Linked DNA regions of Homo sapiens. The protein of the gene in region 2 purifies or fractionates together with the protein of the main gene of each other region. This does not show direct contact. Each region holds a gene or a part of one and is shown on either strand. Other genes may lie near its edges.

Region 1 (3,915 bases), on a different chromosome or scaffold from region 2:
TAAGAGTCTTTACATTAAATATATTCTTCCTAAAAATCCTTACTGTATGCATCTGTCCTCAAGCAGTAAAATTTGATTATGCACCATTTTATAATTAATATGTCACATTTACATAGCAAAATAATGAAGGCACAGCTAATACAAGCAAACTTAAACCCTTTCTACTTCTGAGCTGGGGGTAGGGGCACACACTTGGATTGGTTCTTCAAGTATATATTTTTTCCAAACATTAGCTTCAGTGAAGAGTTCTGATGATTTTCACAGCTACACCCTAAAAGCTACATGACAGAAAGACGTCACAAGGCGCAAAGTACATAACGCTGGATACACATGCTTTACATAATTTGCTACATTCTACATCTCTTCAAGTAAATTAATATTTCTAAAACGCTAGGTAAAGTGATTTAATACTTAAACATATTTGGGGTATTTTTTACGTGTTTGTAAATAGACAGTACTAAGAAAACACAAACATGAGATTGTAACTAATGAATACATATGTTGACAGTATTTTACAGGTTTTACACCCTCCTTCTTGGAACCATGTTGTTTCTCTAAATTCAAATACTCAAAACATTTTTCAGAACTTGAAATGGCAGTTTTCCTGGCCTTATTAACAGTAGTGTCATGATCTCCATTGCAATCTTCCTCAATGCCATCAATCTCCTGTGAAGTGTAAAGCTGATGTCTGCGTTACAAAAGCAAAGTCTCAAAGATGACGTTTTTCTTGGGTTCTGCCTTCTCTGCACTGCGAAATGTCATGAGTAAAGAAATTTAAGAATTAAGCACTGAGAACGTGTTCAGTCATGGCTTGGGTGTTCCATGTGTAGCGTATGCTGTGTGATGAATGGGTTTCAAAGTGACGTTCTTTACTTCGCATCTGCTAACACCCTTTGTAAACCTCAATCCTCAGAGAAGAGACCATGAAAACATAATTTTGGGTTTAATTCAGTTTTCTTTAACACCTTTTGATATATTTATTATGTTCAAAATGAAAGTCAAATTTGAATCGAGCTGGCCAGGATCTAATTGCTTTAATTTAATCTATTTTAGGAATGTCAGAATAAATTCACATTGTATTTTGGTCAAAAACCTGAGCCTTTTTAAGTCCATCGATATTCTGGGAAAAACAAAACCAGGCTTTTTTCTTCGTGGGCTTTCTCTTCATCCATCTCTGCCCCCCTTACTTCTTGGCGTCATCAGGCATCTCGGCGTGGGCATCGTCATGTTTGGCCCCCGCGGCAGCCTCTGCCGCAGCCTCCTCCTCCTCCTCGTCTTCCCCCTCCTCCTCGTCATCCTCGTACTCCTCTTCCTCCTCCTCCTCCCCCTCCAAGGTCCATGCACACCCCTCCATCTCGCCGGTGAGCTCTTGGATCTTGGCGAGTAGGGGCTTATAGATGTCATTATACTTTTTTTCCAGAGCCTGAAATTCCTTATCAAATTTGGCTTCTATCTTATCGCATCGCTTCTGCAGCTTTTTGAGGGCCAGGACTCGGCATTTCACCGAATTAGGCAGGCTCTCGATAAAGTCATTTTTCGGCTTTGGGGCATTCTCTGCAGGGGTCTGGGGCTCCTCAGCCATCTGACCAGCCGCGCTGTCAGGGTCACCAGCCGCGCTGTCACAGTCTCCACCCTGCGCACCGCCTTCCGCCATTACCTCCTCTGCCGCTGCCTCCGCCGCTGCCGCCGCCTGGCTAGGCTCCGCAGGCCCCTGGTTTTCCGAGTCGGCCATGTTAGAGGAGAAGCCGCAGAGGTCTAGGAGGGCTCCCGCAGAGGCCCTGCACCCGAGCTGGTCCAGAGAGATCTTGCGGATGCGGCAAGTGGCGGTGACGTGCGGCCGCGGGAATGACGTTGGCCGCGGCCCCGCCTCCTGCTTTCGCGGCACTTGACTGGCTTCCCACTATCAGCTGACGGCCGTGTGCTCATACTGCACCAGATTCCTCCTGTTGCTACCCTGACATCTTCTGGGCCCTCAACACCCGCCTGTTGGACAGACACCCTGTTCCCAGCCCACCCATGTACCCACCCCTGTAGAGCTGGGCTGGGAGTGTCAGTAGCTGCCCGAGGTGCTTCTTCAGGAACTGCATAGATGGCCTCAGACCATTTTCCGTGTGCTCCTCACCCCCATCCAGGCCCTTCTACAAATGCCAGTGCATATGTCTTCGCTTTCCTCTGCATCTCTCTCCATAGCTGGCGTTTGATCACCTCTTAGATTCCTCCGCATTCCTCTCCATGCAGTGGAGGAACGGGCAAGCTGGCTCCATTCCACCCCTTTGGGGACCTGGGGTGCATGTGTGTGGATAGGGCAGCTTGCATATCCAAGCTCTGTACCTATGTGTCCACCCAACACCCCCTTGGCCATCCCACACACCTAGCGGCATATATCTTGGTGGCAAGGTCGTCTCTCAGCAGGACTCCCCTGGAAGCAGTTTTGGAGCCATTTGGGTAGGAAATCTCAGAGCTCCCGGTGTCCTGGTGTGTGTTCTAGAAGATCCTACAGAATCTTTGGCCTGTGGGAAGGACTAAAGCTTGAGGAGGGCTGAAAAAAAGCAAGTCTTTCTAAAGCATGGGGCCCAGGGCCAAGGCCCCCTCTTATCTTGGTTAAAGCATGTGCCATCTATCCCACCCCGCTCACATTCGTCTTCCCTGCCTTCCCCCAACACCGTCTGCTTCCCTGCCTTCCCCACTATCTGTTTTCACACCTTTCCACACCACATCTTCTCCCTCCCTCCTGCCCCTCCCCCGCACTGACTTATGCCCCACCTTCTGCCCATCTTCTTCCCCGCCTTCTTCCCCACTCACTGCCTCCTTCCTCACCTTCCCCCCGCCGCACTGTCCTTTTCCCCACCTTCCTCACCCTCTTCTTCCCCACCCTCCTTACCCTCTTCTTCCCCACCTTCCTCACCCTCCTCACCCCCTTCTTCCTCACCCACTGCCTTCTTCCTCACCTTCCCCCCACCGAACTTTTTCCTCACGCTCCTCACCCTCTTCTTCCTCACCCTCTTCACCCTCTTCTTCCTCACGCTCCTCACCCTCTTCTTCCTCACCCTCTTCACCCTCTTCTTCCTCACGCTCCTCACCCTCTTCTTCCTCACCCTCTTCACCCTCTTCTTCCTCACGCTCCTCACCCTCTTCTTCCTCACCCTCTTCACCCTCTTCTTCCTCACGCTCCTCACCCTCTTCTTCCTCACCCTCTTCACCCTCTTCTTCCCCACCCCCTAGCCCCACCCTCTTCCCACCCACCCCCAGCCCCGCCTTCTTCTTCCCCACCCACCCACCCAGCCCCACCCTCTTCCTCCCCACCCACCCACGCAGCCCCACCCTCTTCTTCCCCACCCTGCCCACCATCTTCTTCCCCACGATCTGTCTTCTTCCCCACCTTCCCCCACGGTCTTCACCACCTTCCCCCAACCGTCTTCTTTACCCTGCTCACCATCTTCTTACTGGCTCACCATCTTCTCTGCCTTCTTTCTCACTCCCATATATCATCTCTTTTGATGGCTACAGCTGCCTTGAGATTAGGAATGATGTTTCTCATTTTACAGATAGTAAACTTAGAAGCAAATACAGTGAAATCATCTTACTGCATGTATCACTTAATTGGCAGATGCAGGGGCAGAAAACAGGCCTTTTGACCCCTATAGTATGGATGTTGTGACAGACTTTAAAAAAAAAATCCCACATTTTGGTTAAATTCATTTGACTAACTTAACTTGCTTAAAATATTTAGGGCATGTTCATCTTTCAAGATTTTTATTTTCCTGTCTCAACAGATCTTAAAACTTAGTGTTAAACCAGACTGTTTTTTAAAAAGTCTGGCTTATTGAGGTATCATTTACATAACAGTAAAATTTGTCCTTTTGGGCGTGCTTTCACAAGCAAATACAGTAATGTAAGCACTGTAGTAATCAAGAT
Region 2 (3,915 bases):
CTTAAATTGGGAGAAGAGCATGGTCACAGATAGGGTCCAAGCCATGCAAAGAAAGGCAGTATGGTACACTATATCTATAGTATCATACGCTTGGCATAGAAGCCGTAGAAGGCCATGCACTTGAAACATGTTAACACAATGCAGAAAAGCATGAAGGCCCAGAGGAAGAATGGCACAGGCAGGTAAGCCAACAATCTTGCAACCGATTACTGAAGATTTAGAACCAAAGGAAAAGATAATCCACAGTATGAAGAGAAAGCAGATGGAAGACTGCATGCTGTTGGCCAAGCATAGGTCCAAGAGGAGGTGGTAAGGAAACTTGTGCAGAAGCTTCTCACAGGACAGAGATTAGCCAGACTGGAACCTGAAGGATCTGGCGCTCTCCACTGGCTGCCTTGGTGGGCCTCGAATTCCTCTACGGGGCCCTTCACCCATCAGGTAGTATTGTAGGGGATTGGGCCACAGTTCTCCTTTGATAATCTCTGCAATTCTGTCGAATTCTAGAAGGCTGTGGTCTGAAAACCAGTTGAAGAAACTAGGGATAGTGTTCCCTTCCCGGTTTCTGTGGATATGAGCCTGGGGGTCTTGGCCTCGGTGCCAGCGGATTGGAGTGGAAAGAGACACCACCCGGCCAGAGGATCTGCGTTCATATTCCTTGACAAGCCCCTCATTTCGGAAGTAGGGGTTGCCCTGAAAGATGAACTTGAATTTGCAGCCTGCTCTGGGGTGTTTAAGCTCCTCCACCTCCAAATTGATCATGTACCTCAGCATGTCTTCATCTTGGCCACTGATCATAGGTGACAGCTGGGGGTGGTTTCGAAAGGCAGTAACCCAGAAACCTGGGATATTCTGGATAATGAAACTTCTGCGCTGCATGTGGAGCCTTCGCATGCGGCCAAACTTGCGCTCAAGCTGAAGGAAGGCCCTGTCAGCCTGGGCATTTACGTTTGACAACTCTTGATCGATGGCCTCCAGTGAGTCCATGCAGTTATTGATCTTCGGGGCCCTGGGCCGTGTCTCCTCTTTCACCCCTCCTGCCACCTTTTTTTCCTTCTGCACTACCTTCTTTTCCTCCATCGCCGCCCCTGCTTCTCCCTCCTTTTCCACTGCTGCCGAGATGGCGCGTTTTTTAGTCGTCACTTCCTTGGCCTTCTTCCCCGGTATCATCTGAGACCCCAAGCCCCCTGCGCCACAGGCTTCTAGAGCCTTCTGCCCAGCAGGGCCACGGGGCTCTCCAAGCTGACAGCCATTTTTCTGGCTGCTGTCAGCAGCCTCGGCGGCAGAGGCTGCTTCCAGACCTTTCGTAGAAGGTGGAGCATCCTCCTGCCCGGCTTTGGTCGCTGCACCGCCGCGACTCCCGGCAACTGGGACGCGGAGCGCGGGGCCACAGTCGACAGGATCCTGGGATGCACCCCCCTCCGCAACGGTCTCCAGGCTGCCCCCACCTGTGTTCGCCATCACCTGTGTCGCCTCGGTTTCTTCACGGAGCCCTTGGCACTGGTCTCGGTCCGGATCTCCTGAGGCATGGTCGGGAGCAGCCAGGCCGCCGGTTTGGGCGAGAGGGAGCTTGTTGCCCCCATCCAGGCCGCTCATTTTGGAAGAAGTCAGACTAGTGGGAGAGGGAGAGTTCCTTGTCCTCCGCAGCGGCCGAGCTCTGCCCGAAACGTCTAGCACCACCCCTCCTTTACTCTCGGCGGTGCTACCATGGCAACTGGTGATGTCAGGGCGGTAGCGTCGTAACATCGCGCGAGAACTCTCTGCGCGGTTGACTACGCTTATCAATCCATCGTATTCCTTTGTCTTCTTGTCACAAAAAGAATTTCGTCAGTCTGGAAGGGGAGTTTTACTTACGTAAATGGATGTAGACCAGACTCAAGCATGTAAGAACTGTGTTAATGTGGATTTCTAAGCCTCTGAATGAATTTCTAAGGCACCTAACCTATTGTTTCTGAAAATATTTACTTTAAGGTGAGTTACTGTCTATTCAAGTCAGTTCATAGGGCTTCTCCTGAGTAGGAAAGTGGATTCACGAACTCACAGGCCTTCCTTCTTTTAAGGTGTGGATTCATGGCTATTACCAAAGAATTTAAATGAGCAGAGTTTGATTTTAAAGAGAAGTGTTGCTGTGTTGTTATTTTTAAAATTAAGGAGCAGCTGAAAGGCAAACTTCTCTCATCCTAACAAGACATAATAAAGGAATATTTCAATTTGTCTTACAGATTTTAAAGTTTATATAATTTGGCCAACATCTACAAAACAAGTGGACAATATTTCCTCTTCACTTTTAACAAAGAGTAGCAAAATGTTTTTCCTTACGTAGAGGTGACTGGCACACGAGCACAAATTTAGGCTTTTAAGCATTACTGAAAGAAATATCTCAGGGGATTTTAATTTCTAAACTGATGCATATGTTCTTTTCCTCAGGTTACAATCTTAATCTAAAAGTGGTTCCTGCTTCATAATGCCTGTGGACATGAAGCTAACAAATCTTTTCAAAATGTGTTCATGTGGTAATTCACTGCAGCACAGGAGCAATAATCAGCTATGTGCAGGCATCTATGCTACTGTCTCTTAAAATACTTTAAAAGTAAGGTTAGTTATTGTCTATTCGAGTCAGTTAGCTCTTACAATTCATTTGATAGTGATTATCAGTACAATATATTAGTTTGTTGGAGTGTGAGAATAATGGTGTTAATCCTTAGAAAAATGCAAGACCAAAGGGAAATTTAAATTTTGCATATTTATGTTTAATGTCAAATTTATATTCAAATAAACGGTTATGATTATAACTCTTTGTAAAAGAAACTCCATTTTAAGCCCCCCAGATTATGATCACTTTCAAATACAGGCTCAGAAGTACAGATTTAGAGAAAAAGGATTCCTCTTAGAGGAATACATCATATATACTGAGACTTCTAGCGAGGGAAGGAGTGTAGTTCTGGTTCAACTAAGATAAAGTACTGATGAAAGGTCACTGGCAGACAATACGGAGAAACAGCCTGCCTTGCAGGATTTTTTGTATGCCTAGTCAGCCTACCCAAGGACAATGTGTCCAGAATGACCTCTTTACTGCCTGCCAGCTAATCAGTTATCCCATAAGAAATATGCAAACAAGATTCACACAGCAGAGAGCAATTATTTTTCTCTCCCTCTTTCCTCTTTGTCTTAATAAACGCTCTTTTTTTATTTGTGGGGTGAAATCAATCTATTGAGGTATCGTCTTTGTAAACACATAAACAGCGTGCTATAATTGACTTTGTGACTTTGAATTATTGACACTGCTCTGTTTCTTTTCCAAAGAACCTTTGCACTGTTGAAAGAGTAACTTTTCCATTATAACCTGAGTCAAGATGAAGAGAAGCAGGGAATACTGAATGAAAGTTACTTTTCCATGCAGCAGGAAAAAACAAGTTTGCTACTATACAAATTTATAGAAAAGTATAAAATTACATGTGAACTTCTTTTTCTTTTTGTGTGTGCCAAAGTTTTTTAAAGATTTATATCTCTACTACTCAAAGCATTCCCATCTCTAGCCTGTATTAGTTCTGTCACCTGAATCATTTTTCACTCATAACCACCTGGCCATTCTTTAACACTCAGTTCATGTAGATTGTACTAGGCAGTTTAAATACATTAGATTTTATAAACAAAGACCCAGTGAGCACAGAGCAGTTAACATGCCCATGGTCACATATGTATTAATTGGCAGATTGCCTCCTCCCACCTTATTACTTTACCTCCTTCCTTAATTACTTGCCATTTTGACAGTCTTCTGATTTCTGTATAGCCCTTATGACTTTTACTATCCAACTTAGTACAGTTACGTTTCACTGAATGACAGGGATTTTGTCATTATGGAAACATCATACAGTACATCTATCAAACCTAGCTGCAATAGCCTACTATACACCTAAG

The links.
Region 1: the proteins of TSPYL4 (region 2) and NAP1L5 purify together in Homo sapiens (affinity purification with mass spectrometry; 4 studies listed by BioGRID and IntAct, with this or other methods). This does not show direct contact.

Annotation. Positions count from the first base shown.
Region 1 is NC_000004.12:88,696,023-88,699,937, forward strand, and holds the start of NAP1L5 (nucleosome assembly protein 1-like 5), read right to left. Parts: upstream 1,808-3,915; 5' UTR 1,733-1,807; coding exon 1,184-1,732; 3' UTR 1-1,183.
Region 2 is NC_000006.12:116,252,416-116,256,330, forward strand, and holds the start of TSPYL4 (testis-specific Y-encoded-like protein 4), read right to left. Parts: upstream 1,661-3,915; 5' UTR 1,594-1,660; coding exon 349-1,593; 3' UTR 1-348.